6 separate regions of the Homo sapiens genome follow, and regions 2, 3, 4, 5 and 6 are each reported to be linked to region 1. Evidence: microRNA targets listed by miRTarBase, many of them from high-throughput screens and not tested one by one. Region 1 holds a microRNA gene; each other region holds the end of a gene's coding sequence.

Region 1 (5,312 bases):
AAGTATTTTGTAGACTGTTCTTCAATTGGGATTGGCTGATCTTTTCCTCAAGGGTAGACTAGGGTAATGGGTTTTGCAGAGGAAGAATACATGAGCAAAGTGTTGTCAACACAGTAGATCCAGGTGCAAGCTATCAACATGACTGACCATTGATGATGTTAACCTTCACCATCAAACCAAGTTTGTGTTTGCCACAATTCTCCACTGTGAAGTTATTCCTTCAATTTCCATACTCTACTTTTTAAAACGGATATCTATGTTTACATACTTTTTGTCAAAATAATACATGCATATCAATTTGAAAGAAATAGAATTTCAAAGCTTTAGAAAACATTCAGTGGTTAAGCTCTATCATTCTCATCACAGAAGCAACTACTTTTGATGATTCTCCATTCCCACCCCAAGAGCTAGTTAATCACAAACCTATTTTCTGTCTCTACAGATTTTTCTTTTCTGAAAATTTCATATAAGTGGGATCTAATAATATGTGATCATTTGATCTGGCTTCTTTTGCTCAGTATAATGCTTTTATAATTTTATCCATATTATGACATATGTTCATTTTTTTATTGTTGACTAATATTTCACTCAATGGATATACCAATTTTTGTTTATTCATTTATAAGTTAATGAACATTTGAATGGTTTCTATATTTAGGCTCCTGTGAATGCTTCTATGAACTTTGAGATGTAAGTCTTTCTGTGGAAATAACTTTCACTTCTCTTGGGTAGGTATTTAGGAGAGAAACTATTAGGTCACATAGTAAGTTCATGTTTAAGTTTTTAAGAAGCTGCCAAACTATTTTCTGACTGCCTGTATCATTTTACATTTCCATCAGCAATATATGAAGTTTCTCCATTTCCCTACCAACTTTTGTTATTTTTGTCTGTCTTTTATGTTTATAGTTATTCAAATGCGAATGAACTGGTATCTTACTATAGTTTTAAAGGGTACTTACCTAATAATTAATGATGTTGAATGTCTTTACATGTGCTGATGAGTCTTTTTATTCTTTTTTGTAAATTGTCTATTTAATTTTTTTGTTTAAGTTTTTATTGAGCTTGTTGTCATCTATTTGGTTCTTTACATATTCTGGATGTAAATGCCTTATCAGAAACATATTGCAAATATTTTCTTCCAGTCTGTGGATTATCTTTTCATTCTGTCAGCTATTTCTTTAGAAGTACCCAAGATTCTAATTTTGATGACCAATTTGACTATAGTTTATTTATTTTAATGGATTGTGGTCTCAATGTTATATTTAAGAAATTATTGACTAGCCAAGGTCAAAAAGATTTTCTCCTGCATTTTCTTCTAAAAGTTTTACAGTTTTAGCTCTTACATTTAGATCTTTGATCCATATTGAGTCAATTTGTGTGCATAGTTTGAGATAAAGGCCTAAATTTATCCTTTCTGCATGTTGGATATTCAATAGTCCTAAAATTAGTTGTGGAAAAGACTGTCCTTTCTCATTGAATTGGCCTGGCAAATTTTTTGAAGAAAAAGTTGACACAATTAGAAGGCTTTACTTCTGGACTCTCAGTTCCATTACCTTATTTATAGGCCTATCTTTATGTCAGTACCACACTATTTTGATTTCTATAGCTCCATAGTAATTTTATTTGTTTGTTTGTTTATTTATTTATTGAGACAGGGTTTCGCTCTGTCCCTGGGCTGGAGTGCAGTGATGTGATCTAGGCTCACTGCAACCTCTGTCTGCCAGGCTCAAGCCATCCTCCCACCTCAGCCTCCTGAGTGGCTGAGACCACAGACATGTGCCACCATACTTGGCTAATTTTTGTATTTTTTGTAGAGATGGGGTTTTGCCATATTGCCCAGGTTGGTCTTGAACTCCTGAGCTTAAGTAATTCACCTGCCTAGGCCTCCCAAATTGCTGGGATTACAGGTGCGAACTGCTATGCCTGGCCTACAGTAATTTTAAAATCAGAAAGCTCTTTTTGTTTAATTAACGAAACTTCTTTTAAGACAACGATAAGCTTTAAACATTTTCTTTTTTATATTATCTCTCTCCTCCAGTTTTTGTTTTGTTTTGTTTTGTTTTCCCAGTACTTTTCTTTCACAAAAGAAGCCTTCTTCAACTGTTAATTCTTGCTTATCTTCTCACGTTTAAAGACGGAGATTTTAAAAACTGTTTGAAGCTCTGAACGCATAGGTAAGACTGGTATACTTTGAGCTTCATTGCAGGATGATGTTTCAACTATAGTCACTGTTTGAGCATAAGTCAGGGAATAATTTATAAAATATTTGGCAACATTAAAATAATATGTCTTCTTTACTGGGAGAAATCTGCCACTGATTTTCTAAGCGAAGAAGCAGAAAGCACATGGGAAAAAATGATGTCACTGCCATCTTGACACGTTTGAAATCACAAATTATAGAAAAGTTGTATTCCTGATCGAAGAATCACTAGTATTACAGGAGTTATTAAGAAATTATTTTAGGCAGCAAGAGAGGGGAAAAGAGTCCTTGGTAAGGCTTTTTCTTTTAATAAAAAAGCAAGCCCCAAAACATTTCTTTTCTAACAGAAAGTGGCCTGAAAAACCAGACCTGCAAGCATTGATATGCAAATGCTGGTGGCTAGAAGCCAGGTCCAACCAATATGGTGGTTCCCGTGACTTTTTCTTTGTTGCCACGTATGCAGAACATCATGGTGACCAGCCAGGTAGCCATATGTGCATATTTAAAGGCTAGGGTGGGAGAGCTGGCTTTTTTGCAGGCTATGTGAATGACACACCTGGTCAAACCAATCCCCTGGCTCCTATGCAAACCAAACACCACGTCGTCCAGCCTCCCAATATAACCGACTGCTTTCTGCTACATGTGGGGTTTTCCATTTGGAGCCCTCCTCCCTCTGTATGAGGGAGCTGTTTTCTTCTTTCTTGCCTATTAAACATTCCACTCCTTAAACCACTCCACGTGTATCCGTGTCGCTAATTTTCTCCGTGCGAGAACAAGGACCTTGGGTGTTTCTCCAGACAACAGACCCATATCATTTTTGGTGCGTTGGCTGGGAAACCAAGGTACAATATCCATTGGGGTTGGTGAGCAGAAGAGCAAACTCAAAACCTGTCCTTTCATTCCGAGGCTCTTGGCTTCCATTTTAAAATCAAATCAAATCAATAACAGCATCTGTCAACCATCTAGATATGCTTAGTGTGGCTGCCATTCTTAAAGACTCGCATGTCAGCCTTGCTGGGGAGAACATGAAGACCCCCCTCCCTCCAATACCCTGGGTCATTGGGAATGTTGGCCGTGCTTCAAACCAGCTTTTCTGTTCATGGGGAAAATTAGCCATTGCATAAGGCGGGGAAAAGTTCTGAAGCAACTGAGAATTTCTGGCCAGGGCATTTCCTAGTGTTATTCAAAAGCTTCTGGACCGGACTCAGCCTCCAGCAGCCTGCCCAGGTGTTGGTAAAAGATCCCCAGTTATCCTGTCGCAAAACTTTTTTTCTGTTTCTATCCACGGTCGCTATGCCTCTTATTCTCTTTGTGTGTCGAATGTGTGGGAATTTTTACAGCCTAGGGAAGTAATCCTGTTAGGCAAGATCAGGAAATGCTGTAATAACCGGGGCTATAGCTCAGGAAAATGCTGTTGCAATCTTCTAGGAACAGAGGTCTCTGAAACCCCGGTTGTGAGATGAGTCCCTACTATGCTGCTGGTGGCACATAGTATTCCTAAGCCAACAGCGCCACCTAGTGGAAATAGACACCCTCTTCATAAGACGCATTGCTTGTCCGCTACAGTCCACCGCAGCTTCCTAATTTTTCCTTTTTGCCCCTTCCTACTGGAAACCAGGCTTTATGCTGCTTCTGTGAACAGGAAAATTCTGCCTTCAACAATTAGGAGTAAATTGTCCTCTGCAGCCAAATTTGAGTCCTGATCCTGTCCCATCAACAGGAAAGTCACGATTAGGCCCCCACATCCCTTTAAGGAAACTATTCTGTCTCCAATAAGACAGTCCTTAATTAGTAAGGGGATTTTAAGTCTGAAAGTTAACCAGAACCATTTTTCTAAGGGTTAAGGCTTTAACACGGGCCATAGTAGCAGGCAATCTAGCACATTCCCTCCATTAAAGGACACTTGCCTTTTATATAATCTTTCCCAAGGTCAATTTTTTTTAAGGGAGGCACACAGGTCACACAAGTCTAGGAAGTCAAAGGGAAATCACAGGCAGAGGACTAGAGCTACTTGAATGAGCATGACTAGCCCCAGTTGCTTGGTTTCTTTGGTGCCATGGCTTGGAGGGTCACACATACAACCATGGGCAGCACATTTAACAGGGTGCTGGGACCCAGGAACCAAGGAAGGAAAACAGTTGGGGGGACGCTCCCACTGTCTTCTTCTCCACTCTGGGTTATACAGAGAGAGGAAGGAGACAAAAGAGACACCTTTTTCTCACTTCTCTTTCTAGATGGGTAACAGATCATGTTCAGCATGTACTCCCCTGGAGTATATTCTAAAGCACTGGGACTGCTTCAACCCTGAGACTTTGTAGAAAGAGCACCTCATATTCTATGGCATAAGGGCATGGCCTTCTTACCATCTTTAAGACAGACAAACCTGGCCTGCTGGGGGGAGCCTTCATTTTAATACTGTCCAACAATTAGATATTTTCTGCAGATGGAAGGACAAATGGTCTGAGATACCCAATGTACAGGCTTTCTTTGCCCTGCGAGACGACCCAGACCTTTACAAGCTTTGTACAATTGACCCAGTTCTTTTAGCAGCATGACAGGCAAGCCCACAAGGAATAGTCCCCCAGAGCTAAAGCAGATTCCAGAGGAGCAATCTGAGACAGCTATTGAATGTCTCAACTCAGTTCCCCTCATCCAGAAGCCCCTCCAATCATACCATCAGGTCCTCCAGGTCCACCATCTCCAGTATTACCCACTTTCCCCACTTCATTCTTATCTCTGCAGGAAGTGCCTGATGAAAATCGTGCCATGAGGGTTCACGTTCCCTTCTCATTACAGGACCTTAAGCAATTAAAGGGAGACTTAAGCAGATTTTCTGATGACCCCAATAAATATATAGAAATTTTCCAAAATTTAACTCAGGTGTTTGACCTCACATGGAGGGATGTTATGTTGCTCCTAAGTCAGGCCTCACTGAAGCTGAAAAGCAAGCAGTTCTGCAGGCAGCAGAAAAATATGAAGATGAACAACATCTCCTATGGCAGACCAAAGAGAAAAAAAGGAGATAGGGAAGGTGAAGAAGTAATGGAAACTCCATTCCCACTAGGAAGAGAAGCAGTTCAAGTAGACAACCCTGATTGGAACCTCAATAACT
Region 2 (5,312 bases), not on the chromosome of region 1:
GGATGATGCCAGGTACCAACCTAAAGGCTTATTTTGGGAAAAAACAATTAGAATGAACATTAAAAAGAAGCTTTGAAGAGACAGAAAGTAAGAAAAAGAGGAAAAAGTTAAAATCCAAAGCAATGGTTTACCAACTTGATTCTGTAAGACACTCAGAGTTGTATGCAGCCATCTGATGAACTTGACTGGGGGCAGGAATGACTCCTGGGGGAACCCTATCCAAGCAGAACCAGAACAGTTTGTATGTATTGGTTCTGCATAAAACTGTTTCAAAAAAGAATTCTGCCTCTAAAAATTATTTGAGCCTGTCTGTTTTGGGGTATGTGGTGAGGGAGTGTGAATCCCAAATTGAACAAAATGGGATAACTTTGATGGGCTGCCCTGGTGCAAGAAGTCAGGAAGTCTGGGGCAGGCAACTGGGGCCTGGTTTATTGCAATTTCTGCAGAGAAAAGAAAGTGGCAGAAAAGAACATGTTTATGTAGTCTTTCCCACTAGGCAGTACTGTTTTCATTTCTCTCTTTTTAATTTCAGATCTTCAGCTCTGTAAATGCCATCCTTGATCTTTCTGTTTTTGGAAAAGAAGTTACTCTAGAAACTCTGGTAAAAGACCTGAAAAAAAAAATCCCGAGTTTAAGCTTCAGTCCTTTGAAACCCAATGGAAGAATCTCCGTGGAAGGATCATTTCTGGCTGTCAAGAGGCTCAGAGAATCTTTGCTAGCAAGAGCATGTTCTCTCTTAGAAAAAGACAGAAATTTTACCAGTGAGGAGAGAAAGTGGAATAGACAAAATCCCCAGAGGAATCTACAGAGAAGTAATAACTCTTTGGCATCAGTCAGGACCTTAGTACCTGAGACTGCTAGAAGTGGAGAAATGCTTGTGCTTGACACAGATGTTTTTCTTTACCTGAAACACAAGTGTGGATCTTATGAAAGCACACTGAAAAAATTCCACATTCTGAGTCAGGAGAAAGTGGATGGTGAAATCACCACAATTTGTCTAAAAAGCATTCAAGTTGGTTCTCAGCCAAACAATGCAAAACATGTAAAAGAGCTCATTGAGGAATGGTCACATGCTCTTTACTTAAAGCTTAGAAAAGAGACATTTATTTTGGAAGGAAAGGAAAATAGAGAGAAAAGAATGATCAAAAGGGCATGTGAACAATTAAGTTCGAGATACCTTGAAGTCCTGATTAACCTTTATAGGACACACATTGACATTATAGGATCTTCTTCTGACACTTACCTGTTTAAAAAAGGGGTCATGAAATTAATAGGGCAAAAGGTTAGTTAATAAAATCTCAGCAATATAGTCATAAGGGCTGCTTTCTCTTGCTGAGCAGTGACCATTGCCATGAATGAGGCTAGCTTTACACACCGTATCTCATGAATCCTTATAGTCATCCTTCTTTGTCAGTGTTGACTATCCTCATGTTACAGCGGAAGAAACTAGGATTTGGAGAAGTTAAAACACTTTTCTGAAGTTATCCAGTTGACAAAGAATGAGGCTGTGGCTTAGCCCAGTCTATCTGATTACACAGATAATATCTAAGGAATAAAACTTTGAAAAAAACTCACCAAACTTTTTTTTTTTTTTTTTTGAGATGGAGTCTCGCTCTGTTGTCCAGGCTGGAGTGCAGTGGCGTGATCTCGGCTCACTGCAACGTCCACCTCCTGGGTTCACACCATTCTCCTGCCTCAACCTCTGGAGTAGCTGGGACTACAGGTGCCCACCACCACGCCCGGCTAATCTTTTTGTATTTTTTTAGTAGAGATGGGGTTTCACCGTGTTAGTCAGGATGGTCTCCATCTCCTGACCTTGTGATCCACCCGCCTCGGCCTCCCAAAGTGCTGGGATTACAGGCGTGAGCCACTGCGCCCAGCAAACTCACCAAACTTTGAAGGAATCTTACTTTCTCTGTAACTCCAAATTATTAGAGAATAATAATTATTAAGAAGTAGCCTTAACATATGAGAAATTTGAAAGGTGATTATTATGCCATGGGCAATTTCTTAACATTTACAGTTTGTGTTTACTCCGTGTAGAATTAGAATACTGGCAAAAATCACTGGGGAAACTACTTAGATGGAAAGCATATCTTATGCAGGTAATCATTATTTGACTAAATTCTATTGTTTCAAGGCTGCTGGCCACATAGGATGTTTTTACTATTTTTTTAGCCTAAGTGCTTACATAAAATGGTGATTCTTTTATAATTGTGCAAGTTGATAATATTAATTGAGTCATTCTTGTCACATCCAACTAAAACAGACTCAAGAAGCTAGGGGGAAAAAGTACTTGGGACACATAATATTGCTCCAAGAATGTAATTCTCTGTGAGCCTGGCTACTGAAACTGCTTGCTGTAACCTGAGACCAGTTTTGTCTATAGCTGCTGAGATAACTTGCTGTAACTCTAGGACTAATTTTACCTATGGCCATTGCCCACCAGTTGGAGCTTGCCAGCTCCCCAGGGCTTTACTAATACCAATGAACTTTCTCTTAAGATCACAAGTTGGCCGGGCGTGGTGACTCATACCTGTAATCCCAGCACTTTGGGAGGCCGAGGCGGGTGGATCACAAGGTCAGGAGATTGAGACCATCCTGGCTAACATGGTAAAACCCCATCTCTACTAAAAATACAAAAATTAGCCGGGCATGGTGGTGGGCGCCTGTAGTCCCACCTACTCGGGAGGCTAGAGGCTGAGGCAGGAGAATGGCGTGAACCCGGGAGGTGGAGCTTGCAGTGAGCCAAGACTGCACTACTGCACTCCAGCCTGGGTGACAGAGCGAGACTCCGTCTCAAAAAAAAAAAAAAAAAAAAAAGAAAGACCACAAGTAACATTCTTAGTTTTAAATAAAACCCTCAACCTTCTCTTTGTTTGTTGGACATACTAAAGATCACCTAGAATTGAAATTCTTTCTTCTCAAAACATTAAATTTAGTTTTGTGTCTACATTTTCATTTTGACTTTGACATGCATGGTGTCAGAAGTGGGATACAAAGCTGACTCACCTCATGGAGAATCATTGGCCTTTGGAGTTATGGCATGAGGTACCCATGTTGGGGCCCTTTGAACCCCCTACACCCCCACCACTTTCACAGGTAATCCTTTCTCCCTCCAGTAAGTATCTCTTGGACAGAACTCTCAGATATGGTTCGAGTTCTGTTTTATTTGGGATATGATTAGGGAGAGGTCTTTCCCCCTCTTGTTTGGTAGATCTGTTGGGTAGAATTATTTTCCCCCTGTTGACCTCAGCTGCGAGGTTTGGACCTTGAGGCTTGGATGAGGGAATTTTTCCCTTTCTTTGGAGAAGGCTTATCATTCTTACTGGTAAGCATGTATTTTATTTTCTGTCCTGTCTTGTATTTATTTGGCCTTTGTGTATTCAGTGCTTGCATTTACTTGGCTTTTGCATAGTTGACATTAAATCAGAGCACCCACGAAATGAGCTCTCAAAGTTCAAAGGCATGCCAGAATATTTTCTGGAACTCCAGCTAGTAACATATTCAAACATTACAGGGATCATTTAGTCTGTTTTTCTTAAAACTGAACTAAAAGATGGAGGCTATAAAATCATACACTCCAAATAAGATATGCATATTTCATTGATATCTTGAGGCTAAAAAAAAATAAAAACAAAAACAAAACACATTCAGGATACAAATATTGCCTTGTTAAAAAATACTGTCTCAAAGGTGGCTGAAACTTTCTTTTCTAGACCTTTCCCCTCCCCTTCTTACAGTATCCCCTCTTTATCCTTCTCTAAACAGCTATTCTAACATACTACTTAAATAAAAACACTTGAAAACCAGCAGATATAAAACAAAGTCATTTTGACCTTCCTACTGTTTTTTTTTTAAAGCAAAGATTAAATTCCCATGTAAAACCTTCCTCCCTATACAAAAAAGAATAGCAGCATTTTTATCTTCAATGACAAAGAATTGAGTCCAAGAAAATACTGTATAAACCTTGTTAAAAATCACTCTTGTCTTTTGGTCCTACTCACATAATTCAGCACACTTTCACAGTTAACTATTTTTTGTTCAATTTAGTGCACTGGTGAGTGACTCAAACTGCTTTATCCCAAATTTGATTTACAGCCTTTATAAGATTGCCTATTAAAAAAGCTTAAAGCTTATCCTTAGCCCATTTTGTCAGAAAAATAATTTGCATCTAATCATTTTTATAAACTGGTGAATTTACGTGTTTTACTATATCATGACTAAAATTCTAAAATAAAAGTTTTAATATCTTTATGTATATGTGTTTAAATGTGTTTATGTGTATGTACATATATTATGTTGAATGTTGTATCTACATAAAAGCTGGTGTAGTCAGCCAGAAATCCCTTAACAAATTTTATTCTGATTGGTTTAAATAAATGAGCACTCATATAAAATGTATAGTAATTAACCCCCAGTTTTTTTTAGTTGATGTGACTTAAGTAAATCTTTGATAAATTAATTGGTTTTAAAATTGTGGATAAAATAAAATTAGAAATGTCTTCAAAATTGTCAGCAGACATTTTTGTCTGGGTTTACTGGTCAGACAGTTTTATATTTGCCTCTGCTAGATGTTTTAAAGTCATAAAGCCTAAAACAAAATGATCTTTGTTTATATAGTTTTTAAATAAATATGATTATATTGTTGTTTTAATAAAAATAGCTGTAACTTTTCTGAGTTAGCAACAGGGTGGCTGTTTTTAACTTTAAGGTTCTTACTTAAACCTTAATATCAAGATAAATACTTCATGGTAACAGTCTATAAAACTGATTAATAAAAACAATGACTAGTTCTATCTCAATTTTCATAAATCTAGGAATAATTGAGAAATAAATCTTATAAATGAAATAAACATTTATAAATGAGCTTTTCATGTAATTTTAAAATCTTAAAATTATGTTAAATGATACTCATTAAATGTCTGGATCATATCCAAATTAAAAAAAAATTGCTAAATACATAGACATTTGTTCTTGGCTTCTTAGGTTTTATAAAAGGACTAAAAGTATTTCGGTCTATTAATCAAAATATAAATTTAGGAAAATACAATTGATGTATTAAAAATTATATGGTAAATTTTTATCCTAAGATAAAATAATTGGTTGTTAAAAATTTTATTTTTTATTTTTATTTTTTGAGACCGAGTTTTGCTCTTATTGCCCAGGCTAGAGTGCAATGGTGCAGTTCCAGCTCACTGCAACCTCTGCCTCTTGGGTTCAAGTAATTCTCCTGCCTCAGCCTCCCAAGTAGCTGGGATTACAGGCACCTGCCACCACACCAGGCTAATACATTTTTTTTTTTTTTTTTG
Region 3 (4,000 bases), not on the chromosome of region 1:
CACCTGGCCTCGGCTGCTGGCCTCTGGGTATTCTCACCTGGAAGCAAGAACAATCCGCAAAAAGTTGCCGCGATGCCTAGGACCCACATTCTCCCGGAGTCCCGGGGCCGGGAGAGGGCAAGCGCATCAGAGGAGGCGACAGCAGCGGAGGCTGCCCCGGCTGCAGCGGCTGTGGCTGCCGAGGCTGCTGGGGCCCGCGCTGCTGCCGCGGAGACGACGGTCGTAGCTTAGAGGAGCCGCAGGTGCCGCTCGCGGAGCCTGCATCGCCCGCGCTCGGGCTCCCGGCTGCGGGTCTCTGCTCCTCCCGCTCGCGCTCCCGGGCCGAGCACCGCGCCTCCGGAGTTGGCGGCTGAGACTGAAGGAACTACTGGCGATCGGGAGCACCCACAAAAGTCTCGCCTTTTCTCCCCACCTCCCACTCCAGGCATCACGTGACGGCTGCCGAGTTGGGGTGGGGGTGGCGGGCGGGGAAGGCTGGGACGGTCGCTTCACATCCCCACCCCCTTCCTGTCTTCCTCTTCTCCCGCCTCCGCACGTTCCTGGGAAAGGGGCGCCGGGGGGCGGGAGAGAACTGGTAGTTTTCTGAGATGGGGAGGTTGGGGGAGCGGCGAGGAGGGCGCAGCAGGTGCCGTGGGGACCTGCCGGGTGCGGACTAGGGTCTGAGGACTGCGTGCCCGGCTGGCCCTTCGCACATAGGAAGGCAGCCTCCCCACTCCACGTCCTCTGCGCCTTCCAGGACTGGTCGGTACCCCAGCGACTGGGTCCAGCCCACACAACTGAGGCTGTCCCGCTGCGGGCCGCGGGAGCCTGGCGCCCCGGGAGGCTGACAGGAAGGGCGCGCGTTCCCGTGCGCCTGGCAAAGTTCCACGCCCGCAGGCTCCGTAGGGTGTCCTGTGCAGCTGTGCCCCCTCTTCCTCCGCGAAGGCCTTCTGTCAAGAACCAGCTCGGCGTGGCCAATCTGGGTGGGGGTGTGGTGGGGACACTGCCTTAACTGTCTCACTTGCCCGGGCCGCCCTCCCTTCTCCCGCCTGCGCGCACCGCTGGAGGGTGCATTGACACCGCCCTGGTCGCCTAGCCTAGGAGAACGCCGTCCCGGGGACACCTGCCGTGAGGTCCTACCAGAAAGCAAATCAGGGTGAGGAAGAGGGTTGTTCTCCTCCATTCCTTGTCTCCCAAACGCCAGCCGGCTCCATTCTGCTTTCCCCAAAGCCACCGATTATTAGCACATACTCCCACGTCCTCTCCTGAAAGGCCATCCCAGCCTCGGACTCGGCCTCTGGCTGCTCCCCACACCCCTCAAATTCGTCTTCTTTCCGCAAAGTCCAAGTGACCCACCTTGCGGACTCCCGGGGATGCCCCGGTGCTATCTTCGCCTTCCTTCCCGAGCCTTGCAGCAGGTGGTGCGGGAGACCGCTTGCCCGCCGGAGTGCGTTGGTGCCCCCGCCCCCAATCCGCACATTCCCATCCCCTTTCCGCACATCCTTAGGGAGCATCCATTTCCGTGGAAATCGCCTCCTAAGCTTTAGCTCCTCTTCACCCTTTTCTCCCCCGGCCACTTCTGGGGGCAGCTCTCTCACGCCGGGACGCTGATCATTTATTTCTGCATCCTCCCAGCAGAGCTGGTCTGTAAAGGGGCTTAAATGACTTTCTTTGTAATTCCTCTGCAGAGATCGTTCCATATCTGCCTCAGGCTCCTTCTCTCCCTCCCTCCCTCCCTCTCCCCCTTCTTTCATTTCTATTTGGTTAACCCCTCGGGGAGACTGAAATGCTTTGACCATTACTCACCTGTCTGCAGACTCTGATCTTACAATTGGCTAAATTACTATCTCTGGAGCAAAAGGGCCAATTTATTTATTCCTTCTGGGAACCCATTGTAAGAGCACGTGTGAGTCATGATTCAAGTAACTGACTGGGCCAAAAGGTCCTTGAGCAAGTTATTTTCTGTTTTCAGAGGGTGCAAATGTGATATAACTTTTATTCAGAAAGGAAACAAAAAGATTTTTTAAAGTCTGAAAGACAAGGACATTTTACATAATTTTCATTTAAGATAAAATAAAACAAATTGCACAAATTAACCAAATAACACTGATCATACAATACTCTTTAAAGAAACAATTATGTGCTAAAGTAGCCATATAGATCCTAAAAATATTTCTATTGGGCCTAGTTTACAAGCTCCTGTACATAAGTAATTATAAATAGTTCACATCTAGAAAAAATACACATAACCTTTAAAATAGAATTTATCCTTACATATAAACAGTCTTTGTAGAAAAAAAAGGATATTAAAAAGAATTCTTCGTAGCACCATTAATTTTATTTTTAAAAGTGAACATTGCAAATAGAAATTTGTTTTCATTTTTAGAGTGCCCAGATTTTAATAAAAAGAGCAAGAAGATAAAAATCAAATAATATTCAGGATCATAGAGAAGCACTAAGTAAAAGACAATCTAAAGAAATGTCTGGAAGGAAAAACTGGTATTGGGAATAGAATTCGGTCATTTCTGATACAATGTCACACTCCCAATCAGTGTCCACACTTCAGGACCCTTTTCATTTTTCAGCAGAAGCAGAATGACACTTATTACTATCACCTGAATCTCTGGCAACGAATCTGAAATTACACTAAAATGAACATTTCCATCAAATTGAGATTTGTGAGATGGAGATGAGGAGGAACCCTCCGATTTTTTGGCAGGCCCTGTTGTAGGTTTACAGAGTGTACCCACAAACAATTTGAGGACCAGGACAACGAACTTCACAAAAACTTCAGTTGGGATTTTAAAAAATATATATTATCATCAACTTCTAAGACTTAGTACATTATTTCAAGAGCATGGCACTGATTCCATTTATTGCTGTCTTTTTTTGCTACAAATATAATTTCTCTTCCAAAAAATTTACAACTTCTGTACAAATATTCAAAAAAAGTGCAAAATTAAGGATTCTGTATCATAGATGTGTTTACGCTTAATCCTCTTGAAACACAATAAATGGAGTCTATCTTTATTGCCCTGTCAGAGAAATAAGCTCTGGTGGGTTGCCTGCTGTGAATTTGACAAGGAAGGCTCTGGTACTGCAATAGTTTATTGTTATCTCTATCAAGCGGTGCACCCCCCACCCCCCACCCATCATTTCTTAAGCGCTCCAGTCCCAGCTCACTAAGGGAAGAGATGTCCTTTATACATCATTTGAACCTTGACTGGCACAGGAAGAGAAGCTATCATATAAAGAATCACTCAAAGATTCCAAGTTGTCTACCCCAGGCCTATCTGAACTACTCAAAGATGTCTCTTCATTTTTTTCTTTTTCTTCCTTCTGTCCTTCAACCTTGTTCAGAGAGTTCTTCTCTTTTTCTAATAAAATCACAGTATTGCTGTTAAATTTATTGAATGACTCTAGGGAAATTTTCGATAATCTATTCTCGGGATCGTCTTTTGTTTCTTCAAGTTGTCTCAATTTCTGCAATAAAAAGAAGAAAATATTAGAAACATATTTCTTTGGAAAATCAAGTTATCCTATCTAATATTCAATTATTGTCTGTATAAAGTACAGTTTAAAGGGACAGAGAAAACCTACAAGTCTTTAATAATCTTCTAGTATAATTAGATGTAATAATAAAGCCAATTTTAGGGATAAATCAGGACTTTAATCATTTTACTGAGATAAATAGGTCCCAATTTGCAAATTAAGTGCCACTTAATTTCATTTTAAATGGATCCATTTGAAATTTGTTCAGGTAAAGTGCCTTATTTTTCTTCATCAAAGTTTCAAACTCCTCTCTTTCCTTGCTAAGTATTAGCTGTACTTTTTCTAAATATGAGTAGGTATTGAATTTCAGCCAGAAGTTATGGTAATATGTTTTTTTCTAATAAAAAAAAGACATAAAAATCCCCTAACTTGCCATTTTTGAATACATGTTAAGCTTGTTAGAAGCATTGCCATTTTAGTATTTTGTCCCTTTATAGGACTTAAGATATTTGAAAGAGATCTCCAGGTT
Region 4 (5,312 bases), not on the chromosome of region 1:
CCCTGCCACCTGGACCTGAGCCCTGTACTCTCTCGTATTGCCTTGATCTTGCAACCACCTTTTCCAATGAGCCACAGTGACTAGCAGGGACCACCAGCATCAGGGTGACCAGGGGGTCCACTGGCAGCTGTGCTAGTGGTCACAGAGCTACTGATATCCTCTTCCAATCTTGCTTTGAAGATGGCGCTAGTGGGTCCAGCCAAGATGATAATTCTCTCAGAACAACTCCCTTCTGAGATGCTGATACATGCACCACTCTCCTCATGCATCTTAACTGATTCTCCTCTTTCTGATGATACTGCCAACTTCCTTTCCATGCATAAGTAGCCAGGTGGTGAGAATGACATTTAATCCAATTTCAATCATACCAGTGTCCATATCAAGCAGGGCTATGGGGAGCTGGACTTGGAGTGGTCAAGTCTTTGGCCAGTGGGGATGAAAACCAAGAACTCCAGGCAGGAGGCAACTCAGGGAAAAAGGAGAGCAGGCAGGGTGGGGCAGGGGTGGAACAACAGGGGTGGGCAGAAAGGCAACGAGAAGGAGGAGAAAAGGTGGTGGAGGAAGAGAAAGAAGGGAGAGACCTCAGGGCAGGTGGGAGAGAGCACAGCCTGTAGCTGCTCAGGCTGCTGCCTCTGCTGGTGTCAATCTCAGCTTCCTGTAACTTTTCTGCTTTCTAAACTTTTATTTTTTTAACTTTTTGACTCTTTTCTAATAACTTAGCTTAAAACACAAATACACTGTACAGCTGTACAGAAATATTTTTTCTTTATATCCTTATTCCATAAGCTTTTTTCCATTCAAAAGTTTTGTTTTTTGCTTTTTGTTAAAAACTGAGACACAGCACACACATTAGCCTAGGCCTACACAGGGTCAGAATCATCAATATCTCACTGTCTTCCGCCTCCATATCTTGTCCCGCTAGAAGGTCTTCAGGGACAGTAACACACATGGAACTGTCATCTCCTGTGATGACAATGTCTGCTTCTGGATACCTCTGGAAGGGCCTGCCTGAGACTGTTTTACAGTTCGCTTTTTTGTTACGAGTAGAAGGAATACACTCTAAAATAGCAAAAAATAGGATGTACATAAACCAGTAGCATAGTCATTTATTGTAAGTATTATGTACTGTTCATAGTTGTATGTGCTGGACCTTTAAACTGGCAGCACAGTAGGCGTGTTTTCACCAGCAACACCACAAACACAAGTAACACATGAGGTCTGACCTTAGGATGGCTACCACAGCCTAGGCGATAGGAATTTTTCAGTTCCATACGATCTTATGGACCCCTGTCTACATGCGGTCCGCCAGTGGTATGTCCTTATGTGGTGCATGACTATACACATCCTACTGGTTCTCTCTGGACTGCTCTAATATACTGGGCATATACTGTCTTGTCTGTGTCATCTGTTACTTCTCTATTTCTGTCCTGCATCTTAGGACACCAACTCAAGTTAGTCCTCCACATAATGGCTTTGTATTATACCCTATTTTATATATATGTAATATATATACAACTTAGATCACATACTATTTGTTGTTATTTTATATAATACAGATTTTAAAGTTGAAGTTTTGCTTCTGTTAAAATCTTTTCCATGAAATTTTTTAAATTTCCTTTCAGCTAGCTGCTGCTTCTCATACATCTCATTATTTGCTTTTGGAAAAAGCAGGGGTTCCTGACTTTTAAAAAATAGCTGTTTCCTACAGTCATGTTTTTCAACAGAATGCTCTTCTTCTGCATTTTTAATGCTGTTTCTATCCTTCGTATTGCTTGTTTTCTTCAGCTACTCTCCTTTGAATGGGAAACCTACCCAGGCCTGATGTCTGCTCCGGCTAGACTCGAACTCCTGGGCTCAAGCGATCCTCCTGCCCCAGCATCCCAGGTAGCTGGGACTACGGATAAGCACCGCTGTGCCTGGCTTGGTATCTGGCCCTAACGTGGCTCTGCTGCACTGACAGCCAACCTCCTGCACCTGCTGCCTGCTTCTTATCACAAGAAGAGGTTTACTCCTGGACAGTCTGAAGCAATTATGATTCTTTCCTTACCAAAATTATTAAAAACTACAATGCCCAGAGTTATCTGCTTCTAGGGTTCTCCCAGGATTACTGCCGATGCAAAACTTGTCCCCCAACTACTTCCACTCTTAGCCATTTGACACTGCCAAGCTCTGTGGTTCTCAAGTTAGCAAGAGGAAGTACAAGAAGGAATGAAGACTGACAGCTCCAGCTGCCCCCAGAGCAGCTCCCCACTCCTTTCTTACCACATCACCGTCAGCATCTTTGAGGTGGGGCACACAAAGGTGTGTCAACATGGAAATACCACCTTACAGTTCTTCAAAAGCATTCTTATATCATTATTCTCACAATTCAGCAAAGCAAGCAGAGAATTTCCTTCATTAAGCAGATGAAAACCTGGACCCCAAGGGAAGTAGATAACCACCCAGGGAGTACTGTCACCAGTATTATCTGTAGTTTACAGCTGAGAAAACTGTTGCTCAGGAAGCTTCAAGGCATCTGCCCAAAGTCACCTGGCCTGTAAGGGCTGGCCTGGGATTGAACATAGTCTGCTTTTCCAAGATCACTCTTCCTTACTTACCACACTGACCCTCAGCACAAGAAGAGGATTAGCTCCAGCTAGGACCAGATTCCAGGTCATATGATGTTACCTCAGGGCTCTGCAGGCACATTTCTGAATGAATGAAAACTTTTTTTGCAACAAGGGAAATGCTTAGATTTCTGCCTTCGGGATATATTCATAAGCATACTATGCACAAGACTTCCAATTCTTGATTATGTAAAGGAAACCAAGTTTACTCAAGAAGGAGTTAGAACACAGTATCTCCTTACCATACTTCTAATCATTACCAAAAACAGTAAATGAACTGGAACTAGAAAATATAAATGGGTAAGTACTCTAAATCTATAGTATGTAAATGATTCAATAACTAAAAAGGTGAAAAAGAAAGCAGAAGAGATAAGAAGCATTTAACTCCACCATTTTAAAATTTATTTTCATGAATGCAGTTCAGTTTGTGGTCCTGTGAAGTTGTGTGGCTACTCCGGGTTCATGATTCCATTCACACTCCTAATGATAACACATGACTGTAAGAGAACTGCTGACACGCGCAGAGCCAGCCTTGAAAGAGAGCCCTGGGAAAGTCTGGGTGAAGAGGCTATCTGTCAGATATTACTAAAAAGTGAGGACATACACATTTCTGTTTCATTTTTAGTAAATATATAATTTTGTTACTTTGTCATCAATTTTTACCCACAAGATAAAAAAAACTGCAGGACTCCTAAAATATCCAGAAACTTTCCACATATTAAGAATCACCAACAGGTCAATGAATAGTTACACCTAATTAACTACACTTTGCCACATGAATACCATCTGCTGATATCTGTAGCTTTGAAAAATTTAACTAAAGTTGGGCACAGTGGCTCACACCTGTAATCCCAGCATTTTGGGAGGCCGAGGCGGGGGAAATGCTTGAGCCCAGGAGGTCGAGGATGCAGTGAACCATGATAGCACACTGCACTTCAGCCTGGGCAACAGAGCAAGACCCAGCCTCAAAAAATAAATAAATAAATAAATAAGATAAAAATTTAACTATAGTACCTTAAAATATTCAAATACAACAATACTCCCACCTAGTGGATAAAAGGAAAATGCTTGGCTTATTTTGGTTGTGAATAATACCACCATAAATAAGGAATTAAAACTACAATTAATTTTTTACAATTTTATTCCGTTTCATCATTCTCAAAATATATCCCCCAAAAGTAATCTACAAAAGAGTGCAGGCTGCTCCCCTTAAAGGAATGGACAAGTAATATACACTACAAAACAATGTTTAAGATCATGTATAAATGTTACTCTGAATCTCATTTGTTGTCATCAATTTCTTTAGTATCTCAGTGCTTTGGGGAATATTCTGAAAGGAGAGAAAAAAGTGAATACAGTGAGACCCCAGGGATTCAGGCAGAGGCAACACCCCTCCCTCCACGACCAACAATCTCCACACTCGAGACTTAAAAACAGCCATGGGACAGGCGTGGCCTTTACTCTCCTTCTCAACGAAAAGGCAAGTGGGAAAGTCAGTTCAACAGGCCCTTTCCCTGCCACACTCGCCGATGATCTCCTGGCCTCCGATGGTCTCCTGGCCTCTGGAGGAAGTCTATGCTCTAACCCGCCCGACCTTCCCCACAAGATGTCTTCCTCCCCTCTCCACCAACACCACACTCCTCACGGCTCTCCTCACACTTTCCCACTCTGCTCACACTGCTTCCCTCTGCACACTTCTACCCAAGATTCATCCATCTTTCAAATCCAACTAAACTGCCACACAGGAAGAACTCAAAATAATTCCACCTTATTGAAAATACCACTTTTAAAAGGTCAGAAACAACGAACTGACTCAGGCTGATGTAATTGGTCATTAAGAAAACAGCACCCTGCAGAACCACCATCTTACCCTCCTGCTAATCATTATCTCCAAAGCAAAAATGAAAATGCTGAGTTAAATTTCCCCTTGAAAGTATATTCATAAAAGCTGAGTTTCCTTAAGCCCCATATGACAGATGATTTCCAAGTCTCTGAACAAGTCCAAGCGTTTATGACACACCTGTGTGCTACACACAGTCCTACAGCAGTAAACAAAACAGCCCAGCCCCTGCCCATGGGAACTCATCTCTGAGTTAAGTGGGATGAGGCAATTGGCTATTTAAACAAACAAGACGATCAGCATATACTTTGAAAGAGATGCTAAAAATAAATTAACTCCATGTGTCAGAAAGATTACCCTGGATTCTAGCTAATTTGCAAGATAAGCTTGCAGTATACTAAATCAGAGTTTTACAGCTGTACTCTTCAACAAATGGTTATTGATGGCTTTATTCAACATGCCAGGTATGTGGTAAACTTGGGATACCAAAATTAAAAATCGTGGTCCATTACCACAAGGAGCTGACAATCTAGTAACAAACTAATTTATGAGACCTGGGAAATGAGCTACTTCCAACAACTTACCACAAAAGTCTTAAAACTAATGGCCATTCCAGAATAAAACCGGGCTGAGGGACAATGTTGTTACAACCTCTTTCCTTTAAAGAAACCATGCTTAAACCAGAGGCTGTGGACTTCCAAAAAAGTCTCTTAAGAGAAAACAATGGAATCCCTAAACTACCTGAGATTACAGGCAAACATTTTCATGTACGTGTTCCAATTTTTTTAGAAAATGAGACCAAAGGTATAAACCAAGGGTAAGGAAGAGGTTCATTATGTAATTCTCTCATCTTCACATATACAGTT
Region 5 (5,312 bases), not on the chromosome of region 1:
GATGCAAAATATTACATGTTCTATATTTCATGTAATACCATTATATTACTTTTCAGTTACCTTTCCTTTTTTTTCTCTTACTGCTAATAGAATTCCCTTAATAGAATTAGCCCTTAAATTCTAAGCCCTTCTAACTGGCAATAAGGAGAAATCTCAACAAGCTAGGGATTAAATGTTCCTTCCCTGTAGCTTCAAAAAAGCAGACACCATTCTGCATCATAAAACAGTACTTGGCAAATGTTATTTCTAACAAAGATTCTTGTAAAAGATTTCAAAGACTGTTGCTGCATCCTAAAAATATAATTCTAATTGGTTGTGTTATATAACATGTACATTGAAATCCGTGTTCTGTGCAAGTCAGTTTTAAGCACTTTTGTTTTCCCCCATAATCATGAAAAAAAAGAAACTTGACTCAGCTAAACTTTGAACAGATTGTCTGTTTCTAATTTGACACAAGATAGACACGATGGAAAGCAAAAAGAATAACAATACTAGTATGTATTGGAGAAACCAATTCTATATACTGTTTTTTAAAGAGATGATCTTGCTCTGTCACCCAGGCATGGAAGGCTGGAGTGCAGGGACATGATCATAGCTCACTTCAACTTCCAATTCTTGGGCTCAAGCGATCCTCCCGCCTCTGTGTTCTGAGAGCAGCTGAGACCACAGGTGTGTGTCACCACCTCACGTGGCTTAAAAAAAAATTTTTTTTTAAATGACGGTGGTCTTGCTTTGTTGACTATCTCAAACTCCTGGCTTCAAGCAATCCTCCTACCTCGGCCTTCCAAAGTGCTGTGATTACAGGCTTGAGCCACTGTGCCCGGCCCCTAATTCTGTATTTCTTTAGTACAAATCTGAAGAGAAAGGCCAAAAAGGAGGATAAACAGATAAATACATAGACCATACAACATACAATGGAGTTAACATATTCTTTTGTAGGTGATAGGAAGATGTCAAAGGATTTTTTTTTCCCACAGAAGGGAACAGCATGGAAATGTAACATGAACAAGAGCGTAAATGATCAAATATCCATGTAAATTTGGTGTAGAAGGTAGATTGGAGTGGACCTATAAAAGTATCCGACAATCAGTACCTTGGCTCCAATATTTTGTAATTCCCGCCCCGCCCCCCAAAAAAAAGGCCAAACTGTGTAACTTGGAACTTTATTTTTAAAGTATTCTGAAAATTTTCCAAGAATTTTAACCACCACCTACTTCCCTTAAACACACACACATTTTTATCTTACAATTATAACCCCTATTGCAGTACAAAACAAGAAACAATAATTCTAAGTTAGCCAGCCAATCAAACTACTTCAGTAAATGATCATACTACAGCCTGGAATCACTCAAACAAAAAATTCTTCTAGTTCTCTTTAAAGATATTTATCGTTTATTTTTTCATGAAACCAAAGTAATTGATTCAACAATACTAACAGTTCTAGCATGCAACAAACCATCTACTATCTAATGTTTAATCTTCTTAACATGTATATTTTCATTCCTATAAAGTTTCCATAAGAAGCTTGCAATGACAATAAAGGTAAATAAGTACAGTTGTCCCTTGGTATCCATGGGGTATTGGTTCCTGGACCGTCCCCCCAACCCACAGATACCAAAAATCCAAGTATACTCAAGTCCCTTACATAAAATGACATATTTGTATATAACCAACGCACATCCGCCTGTATACTTTATCCCTAGACTAATACCTAATGCAATGTAAATGCTATTTAAATAACTGTTATACTGTATTTTTATTTGTATTATTTTTATTTTTTCTAATATTTTTGATCTGCAATTGGTTTAATCCACAGATGCAGAGTACATGGATACAGAGGGCCAACTGTTTTGTTACAGGTACTTCAAATAGCACTACAGTACATCTTTGACAAAATTTTTACAATATTCCACCTTTCAATATGAAACAGCTTAAAAAGGCATGGGTCAAAAATAAAGTATAGTAGTATCACTTACGCAAATAAAGTCTCAGAATCATACAAGCACAACACTGTTAGGACTCTCCCTGTTTAGGCTGGGAAAAACATTATACAAAACATTTTCTTCAAATAAAATTACATAAATTGCTTAGAAAAATGCCAAAATCAATAATTTCAAACATATTAAGGAGAAAACCTTGAACATTATTGGAAAATATAAACTAGTTATTCCTTGCTTTTAACAGATGAGTTCTTGACAAGTTTTGTGTAAAGCAAATTCTGTAAACCATTATCTTGCTTGCACTGGAGGAACATATCTCAAGGAAACCTAAGAGAAAGTGTTCTTTAAAGCATGTGATTCTCCTGTTTTTGCTGGATGTCTGTATCTACATAATAAACAGGCACACTTCTACATCACTGGGTATTTTACTCAGACTGTCATGTTTCATCTCTGTAAATTAAACCCAAGTTACTTAAAAATCACCTGTGGTAAAAGAAGCAAGCAGATCACCCCCACCTACTATCCCTCCCGCCTCCCCCCTGTCAAAAGAAAGTTCTCAGTTTATGATGCAAAACTTACAATTGTTCATTTATCCACATTCTCAATAGAGGATTTTCCACTATATTTAAGTATGGCAGGATAATTACCCACCTGTTCCTCTTTTCAGCTTAGAAACATAACGGTTCATTCCTTTTATTGCTAGAGAATGTCATTCCTGAAGATTTTATAAACAAAGGCAAATATGAAGGAAAATTTGTAATTATGAAATAAGTCCTTTGTAGTAAAGAATATTTCCCAAATCATAACAGTTCTATTTGGAATGATACCCACAACTCTACAAGCATCTTATCCCTCTACAGGAATGACTACCTTATTAATTAAAATAAAAATTTAACAAGCATCAAAATAAAATTCTTTAGCAATAGACTCCTGCAAAAATAAAAACTAAAACTAGACCTAGTCATTGCCATTTGATCAAACTTAGAACAGGCTTAAATAACAGAACCACTCCATTAAAGAGGCATAGAAAGAAAAGTTTACTAAAATAAATGTAAAAGTCTTATGGAGATGAAGATCTCTAGAATAGTCTTAAGTCTATGACTACTGCTATCATTAATGAGCAAATAAATGACTTGAAATTATTCCTCTGAAAAGGTAAAACTCATACGTATTATGAAAAAGACTATGGCACTTAGAAAATATTCCTGGTAAGTAAACATGGTAAATATAGGTACATCCTAGCCTCTCGCCTACTTTTAAATTATTTTGAGAAAGATAGCACTAGCTGGGAGAAAAAAAAAATCCTTATCACCTGAAGGTGAAATTACCACATAGTCCTAAAAATAAATAGCTTTGAAAAGACCGTCGGGTGCGGTGGCTCATGCCTGTAATCCCAGCACTTTGGGAGGCCGATGCGGGTGAGTCACAAGGTCAAGAGATCGAGACCATCCTGGCCAACTTGGTGAACCCCCGTCTCTACTAAAAATACAAAAATTAGCCAGGCGTGATGGCAGGCACCTGTAATCCCAGCTACTCAGGAGGCTGAGGCAGGAGAATCGCTGGAATCTGGGATGCGGAGGTTGCAGTGAGCCTAGATGGCGCCACTGCACTCTAGCCTGGCGAAAGAGTGAGACTCCATCTCAAAAAAAAAGACCAATGAAAATAATACTATAATTGTCTCATCCATTTTCACCTTTAGTGTCTCTGTAGTTTTTTTAACTTACAAAAAAAAAAAAAAAATTACCAATGCAATTTGAGTCACATGTGGACAAAATTATGCTTTCATATGAAATGTAAAATAAATCAAATATAACAGGGCTATGTGCTGCAGCTAAAAGCCAAGTTTTGCCTCTCAGTCTTTTGAGTATATCTAAAAAGAGATGGCATGTCTTAAGGAATAATTCCTTTAAAAAATGAATGAGGCTAAATTATTTGTACAGCCATCATGGATTTATATTTTTCAATACAGCCAAAGTATATGTTTACAATATTAAAATGCCTACTTTATAGCATCAAATCATGTTCTTGCCTCTAAAATTAACTTGGCTGTTTCTAAAACATTGTATTAATTTTCTATGTATTCTACCTCCTTACTATGCAGGACAAGCAAATGCCTGTGAAACCATTCAGTTTAATGCAGGCCTTTCAATAAAAATGCATTTTAAATAATACAGGCTTTAAAAATAAGATCACCAGAGACCACAATTGTTAGTGGTTGCGACAATTTACATAACCGAATCTAAGGCAACCACTTTCCCTTGTGGTCGTTCTTTAAAGTGAGTAAGCTGATGTCTCTTCCAGTGAGGAGCCTGTCTGAATGTTTTGCCACAAACTGAGCATTCAAATGGTTTCTGCCCTGCATGAATTAGGTAGTGTCTTTCCAGTTTAGATGGAGATCGGAAACTTTTAGCACAAACACTGCATCGGTACAGGAAGACATCATTTTTCTCCTGATGCTCTGAATAACTGCAAAAAGGATTGCTTTGCTCTGATTCCAAAAGTACATTAGGAAGACAGGGTTGCCCGGTGCTACCAGGAATAAAATCCTGTGACTCTGCCTTAACTCCTGACATTTGATCTGACTCTGAGACCTCGTATTTTTGAACACCAGGAGCCTGACATTGTTGGGAAGCATTATAGTTAACATTATTACCTGAATGATTAGAAAGATTGTTGAAGTTTCCAAATTCTACTTGGCAAAGAGATGCATAAGGACTCTTTTCATTATGAGTCTGTTCATGTCTTTTTAAGTGAGCTGACTGTCTAAAAGATTTCCCACAAATATTACAGCCAAAGGGCCTCTGTCCAGTATGAATTAAATAGTGTCTTTTTAGTTTGGATATAGAAGGAAATACCTTCTCACATTTGTCACAAGGACATATCTTATGTCTAGTACGTATGTTTTCCCTTGGAACTGAAAAACCACACTGAAGTACCTCACAGTTATTAAAGAATTCCTCACCTGATGAACCACAGATTGACAAGTCTTTCTTATTCACTGAATTATCAATGCTTAATATGTTTTCTGTCGTAAGGATGCCTTTCAAATTTTTTCCCATATTTTGCCAAGAAAATGGCAAAGTCAATGTTTTCTTCTTTCTATTGCCAATTGTTTTATATGTTCCATGTTTGCCAAGAGAACCCACAAATGTTCTCTGGGTTTGTTCAGAGCTCTGCTCACCAGAAATAAGATCACAATTTCTCAAGAAACTCTTTTTAAATACTTTTTTCTCAGATTGAAAGTTATCTAATTTTTTACTCCTAGCACGCTTAAGCTTGGCCAAGATTTTTTTAACAATGGTTTTATAGTTGTAGCTTCTTTTGAACCTGCTTGGAATTTTGCCACTTCTAGCAGCAAAACAGCTGTGTTCA
Region 6 (5,194 bases), not on the chromosome of region 1:
CACTTTTTTTTAGAGGTGAGGGTCTAAAATCATTGAGATATGCAAAAATCACACACATGGTCAAGTTTCCTTTTTTTTTTTTTTTGAGACAGAGTTTCACTCTTGTTGCCCAGGCTGGAGTGCAATGGCGTGATCTCGGCTCACTGCAACCTCCGTCTCCTGGGTTCAAGAGATTCTCTTGCCTCAACCTCCAAAGTAGCTGGGATTACAGGCATGTGCCACCACGCCCAGCTAATTTTGTATTTTTAGTAGTGATGTGGTTTCTGCATGTTGGTCGGGCTGGTCTCAAACTCCCGACCTCAGGTAATCCGCCTGCCTCGGCCTCCCCAAGTGCTGGGATTACAGGTGTGAGCCACTGTGCCCGGCAAGTTTACTCTTAAAAGTGCCTTACAGTAAAGTTCTGTGGCTCAGGCCTTTAATCCCAGTGCTTTGGGAGGCTAAGGTGAGAAGAGATCACTTGAGCCCAGGAGTTTGAGACCAGCCTGAGCAACATAGAGACTCTGTCTCTACATAAATTAAAAAATTAGCCAAGTGTAGTGGCACACACCTGTGGTCCCAGCTACTTGGGAGGCTGAAGCAGGAGGATCATTTACGACCAGCCTGGGCAACAGTGAGACCCCTCACTGCTTGAACACTAGAGGAGTCATTTGGCCTGCATTCAGGGAGCCACATTGTATAGAAAACACATTTTTGTGTTTTACCTGACTATGGTTGAATTTCGTTAGTGACGTGGCTCCACATGCTGCAGAGGATCAGATACCCTCTGGGTGAAAAGGGACTCCTGAGGGAGAGGCAGGTGAGGGAAGGAGCTCTGTACAGAGAGTGGAGGCCTGTGGCCCTGCCCCTACTCACCCTTGTCTTGACCAGGACAGGGCCACAGGCCTCCACCTTCCTGATCTCACTGGTTTTTAATTTCCTTGTTGAAAATGAAGATCATACAGGGTAGTGATAAGGATTAAATGAGGAAGCAGGATCATGCAGTTCCTGGCATTGTGGATGATCAGTCAAGTTTTTAAAAATTTTGTCTAAAAATCTCAAAACCAATTTTTTTCTAATTAAAAATGTAACATATGTTCATTGCAAAGAATTGAGAAAAGATACCTATCTATCTAGATACATATATCAGAAAATGGCAACCACCTGTACTCCCCCATTCCTAGCAATCATCACTGCTTACAATATGGTGTATTACCTTTTGGGCTTTCTTTTTATATACACATTATATCATAATAATGACAATAATGATAAATCCTGACCGTGTTTCCCCAAGTGGACAGTACTCTGTCAGCGCTGGATGCTTCCTGATAAGCCTCTCCCTCTGCGATCCCAAGAGGCGTGGATCACCATGTTACCAAGGAGAACTTAGGACCCTGAGGGCTGTGAGCTACATGAGACACGCAGAATGAGTGCCAGTTGCAAATCTACCCCCTTCAGATCCAAGGGAAAAGTTGTTTCTGTTTCGGTCTGTGGAGACATTTTTTCTCTTCAGGGCCTGGGGAGTTTTTGCTTGAGGAAGGAATGTAGGTAGATCTGCACGGAGGAGACTAGCAGAGATTAGTATAGAGCAGGTCTCCTCTGACTGAACTTGCTTTGTCTACTGTTACTTTTCCTCCAGAATCTAAGTCTGGCTCCCGTCCCCGCAAGCCACCACCCCGGAAGCACACTCGTTCCTGGGCTGTGCTGAAGCTGCTGCTGCTGCTGCTGCTATTTGGTGTGGCGGGAGGGCTGGTTGCTTGTCGGGTGACAGAGCTGCAGCAGCAGCCCCTCTGCACCAGCGTGAACACCATCTATGACAATGCGGTCCAGGGTCTACGCCGCCATGAGATCCTCCAGTGGGTCCTCCAGACCGACTCTCAGCAGTGAGCTTGTCCCCAGCACCTGCTGCCTCCCAGCCTTGGAGTTTGGATTCCTATGGAATTGGGTTCTGCTGGACACAACCTCTTTTTAGCATCAGACCTACCTGCCATCATCAAATGGCTGCAGATTGGTACATGAGACCTCCTCTTTGTAGGACTTCTTCATTCCTTAGTCAGGGTTCCCTGAAGGAATGAGGAGAAATGGGAGGTGGCGGGGGGGCGTGGGGGGCAGTTACCTGCATGCCTAAAGGAGTAGGCTTGGGGGTGGGGAGAGAGAAAACATAGCCTTTTCTAGTTGTTATATAAAGCTGTGTAAAGGCAAGGCTCGTTTCTACTAAATGGTCAGCTGTCACTACATTTATACTTTTGTATGCCACAAACCCTTTCATTCCTCCCTGGGAATCAGGGTAGATCAGGAGGAACTGGGGGGGACTAGAACACCACGCTCAGTAAATCCAGTCTAAACTGGGAGGTAGGGGTATTCCTGTTTTCTTTAGGACCTCAGAGATGTAAGCATTTTAGCAGCCACACAAAATCTCTGGCTATGAAAGGGACTTCATGACCATCCAGTCCAATATAACACTTGCAGACAGAGAAACTGAGGTCTTCCATGACTTGCCTAGTCTCCCAGCTAGTTTGAGGCAAAACTGGATTCCCACTCTGGTATTCTTTCTTCCCTTTACATCATTTTCCCTCCTTTATAATGTCCTGAGAGACCAGAACTCACACCAGAATCGATTATTCCTCAGGTGAAGCATAGACTCTTTCATGGTAGACAGATTTCACGACTCAGAGATAGAAATCTCTTGCTATCATCAGGTCACGGGCAGCTCCTGTGGAGTCCTGCCCAACTTATGTGGCTTCCATAAAATGGCAACAGTCCAGGCTCCTTGCCTAATTTTAGAGCATTAACTCCCTAATTGCCAGTAAGCAAGGAGGTGGATCTCTGCAAACCTACACTGTCTATGACAGCTCTAGTTGTACTTGGTGTGACTAAATACCTCAAAGGCAACCTGCTTCTGCAGGTTTTGAAGTGTCAGCTTCATAAGACACTGAGGTTTAGAATTGTTTGATTCTAGACCATAACTGAAGGGCATAAATGGAAACAGGATATGAAGGGAAACAAGTAGCATCATGGAGCTGAAAAGTGGTGCATCACCCAATGGCTAGCACAAACAAGGATCACACTGTCCATTCTCTTGTCTGCTAAATTAAGCATTTTCTTGCCTCCTTTGCTTCATCTTTTCACAACAGCTGGATAGAGGGATCAGAAATGACTGTGTCATGGTGCTCATTCACTGCAAACTCCCAGTTGCAAGCTCCTTGGCTCCCCCGGAGGGAGCAAGAATCTCATAGTTCAGAGACACAGAGGGCCTTTTAGCCCTAATGACCTTTTGGATGGGACTGCAACTCATGACTATCCTGATATTGGAAGAAAGGACTTTGTTAATCTTCTCCCCCATAGCTCTGCTGCGTAGGTCTACATCTTACTCAGAATCACTACACATTCCTTTAGTCTTCCTCCAAGCTCCAGAGCCATTGGTACAAATGCTTTATTGAAACTAAATACATAATACACACAATGAGATGAAGACAATATAGAAGTCCGCATAGTCATCATAATCCCGTTCCTTGGCCGGTTGAGGCAGCTCAGTGGCTGAGCCCAGTCAAGCCAACCCGCAGCTTCACTCACGACTTCAAGATTTGATGCTAATTCTTTTGGATTTCTACAGTTATTAAATAAGTGTCTGAGTGGACTGTCTTTGTTCCTTTGTGTTTTGAGGGCTGGCTGGGTAGGAGTGGGGGTGGTTTGTCTGTGGCAGTGAATTTTTGCCAGGAGAGGAACATTAAATGCCAAAGGTAGGTGGCAGTATTTCAGTCTCTGCCCCAGCCGACAGGCAGAGAGACCTTCACAAATAATAAGACCCAAGAAAGACTGGGCCTCACCTAGGCTTGTGTTCCAGGAGGTGCTGCCAGTCTCTTCATTACAGTCAGGCTCTGAGGTTGGGGAAGTGGAAGTTTCCAGCTTTTCATCCTCATCCCTGAGGGCTAGAATCAGTCAGCACTATCTAAAGAGAGATGTGGCTGTAAAGTGGTCATCTGAAGGTAGATACGCCTGGATAGTTCTGGTCCAATGCGGCGAGAAGTGGATGTCACACCTTCCCCACGGCGCACCTGTATGTCTGCGAGCAAATTCTGGCGTTCTTTATCCGAAAAACACTGCTGATAAGCCTGGAAGTGGTAGATGACCTCTTAATATGGTACCATCCATGGTGATCCCTTCTCCATGAGCATGGAGGGTGCTACGCTTGGCTTGGGGCATGAGAACCTGTCCTCCCTCCCTGGGTCAGCATTAGCAACACTGATCTTAGTAGACCTGCACTGCTGACCTGTGAGGCCTTTGTGGGCCCTCAACAGTTGTCCATGGAAATCTGGGGGCCCACTGAGCCCGCAGGCAATGGGCAGTGACCCCTGAGCCCTGGAGCAGCATACCTGTACCAGGAGCTGTGGGGAGGGATAGGCATTCACAACTGCACTGGCCATTTCCAGGCTGACTCGGTTCAGCTGCTGAATCTGTCTCCTCCAGACTAGTGCGAGTCCCCTGCCAGCAAGGTCCACCTTCACCCCTCCAGCCCAGTCACTCTCCAGACAGAAGGAGAAGGTAGTTTCATCTCGGAGCTTCCTGCAACAGCGTGGTTGGAGAGCTGTAAGTTGCTCATTACTCTTCTACACCTGTTCCCCTCAAGTGGCAACTGAAAACCCCCCCACTGACCTTGGAAGAGGTGGGCGCCATGTTACATCTGGCCTTTTTGTGCCTTTGACAATTTGAGTGCTCACTTTGTTGCCAGGTATAGGGCCAGTTGCTGATTCATTTAAAAACTACATCTAGTCCATTATAGTAGAAGAAAAGATACCAGATTCTTTGGATATCTGGCAATCTGCAATCTATTTCTGGTTCTTCTAACTGCTAGGAGCTTAGACAAGTCAATCTCTTCAGGCCTCAGTCCCCTCAAGTATAAAATAAGGGACTTGGACTGGATTGTCTCTGAGGTCATTTACTTATTTTAAATTCTGACAGTGAACACTTCTTGAACTGAGTAGGCCAAAAATTTGCTTTCCTAGTGCTTATTACATTGTGATCTGACCTGTAATTAATCCTGGTAACTTGGCCTATGGTAACCTGGCCTATGATATCAGCCTGCAGAACACATACTTACATATAGGCGAAAGGAGAATATTTGAAAAGGCGCTAGGCTTGAGGACTCTTCCCAAGAATCCCCAGTGTGAGGTCAGCTCCTTCTGCCTCAAGCTTGAGAGACAATGGGCTGACTGCAGAG

What was found. Region 1 holds the annotated microRNA hsa-miR-7977 (UUCCCAGCCAACGCACCA, at 3,019-3,036, opposite strand). A microRNA usually pairs through its seed, bases 2 to 8, with sites in the 3' UTR of a target mRNA and lowers its output. Matches are read on the target gene's strand: a 7mer-m8 pairs with bases 2 to 8, a 7mer-A1 pairs with bases 2 to 7 and ends in A, and an 8mer does both.
Region 2: miRTarBase lists RBM43 as a target of hsa-miR-7977. Seed matches in the 3' UTR shown: 7mer-m8 at 1,711-1,717 and 7mer-m8 at 1,848-1,854.
Region 3: the mRNA of NCKAP5 is a reported target of hsa-miR-7977. Seed matches in the 3' UTR shown: 7mer-m8 at 3,152-3,158.
Region 4: miRTarBase lists PSMG1 as a target of hsa-miR-7977. Seed matches in the 3' UTR shown: 7mer-m8 at 3,456-3,462.
Region 5: the mRNA of ZNF770 is a reported target of hsa-miR-7977. Seed matches in the 3' UTR shown: 7mer-m8 at 3,465-3,471 and 7mer-m8 at 3,332-3,338.
Region 6: miRTarBase lists LRRC59 as a target of hsa-miR-7977. Seed matches in the 3' UTR shown: 7mer-A1 at 2,252-2,258.

What each region holds. Positions count from the first base shown.
Region 1 is chr3:176,512,827-176,518,138 of GRCh38, reverse strand. It overlaps MIR7977 (microRNA 7977), which reads right to left and starts at 3,036; the gene lies at 2,988-3,036.
Region 2 is chr2:151,246,885-151,252,196 of GRCh38, reverse strand. It overlaps RBM43 (RNA binding motif protein 43), which reads left to right. Exons shown (of 4, transcript NM_198557.3): 4 at 533-4,257. The coding sequence ends at 1,291. Among named protein-coding and RNA genes, the nearest start is that of RBM43, 12 kb to the left of the region's middle.
Region 3 is chr2:132,669,844-132,673,843 of GRCh38, forward strand. NCKAP5 (NCK associated protein 5) reads right to left here. Exons shown (of 20, transcript NM_207363.3): 20 at 1,945-3,462. The coding sequence ends at 3,446. LYPD1 (LY6/PLAUR domain containing 1) reads right to left here and starts at 362. Exons shown (of 3, transcript NM_144586.7): 1 at 38-362. The coding sequence starts at 89. RefSeq lists an enhancer at 1-188.
Region 4 is chr21:39,171,729-39,177,040 of GRCh38, forward strand. PSMG1 (proteasome assembly chaperone 1) reads right to left here. Exons shown (of 7, transcript NM_003720.4): 7 at 3,041-3,936. The coding sequence ends at 3,862. It also overlaps the pseudogene PCBP2P1. Among named protein-coding and RNA genes, the nearest start is that of PSMG1, 9.1 kb to the right of the region's middle.
Region 5 is chr15:34,977,194-34,982,505 of GRCh38, forward strand. ZNF770 (zinc finger protein 770) reads right to left here. Exons shown (of 3, transcript NM_014106.4): 3 at 1,148-5,312. The coding sequence ends at 4,166. Among named protein-coding and RNA genes, the nearest start is that of ZNF770, 8.4 kb to the right of the region's middle.
Region 6 is chr17:50,379,657-50,384,850 of GRCh38, reverse strand. It overlaps LRRC59 (leucine rich repeat containing 59), which reads left to right. Exons shown (of 7, transcript NM_018509.4): 7 at 1,616-3,613. The coding sequence ends at 1,863. It overlaps EME1 (essential meiotic structure-specific endonuclease 1), which reads right to left. Exons shown (of 9, transcript NM_152463.4): 8 at 4,350-4,539; 9 at 3,368-4,088. The coding sequence ends at 3,912. Among named protein-coding and RNA genes, the nearest start is that of EME1, 9.0 kb to the right of the region's middle.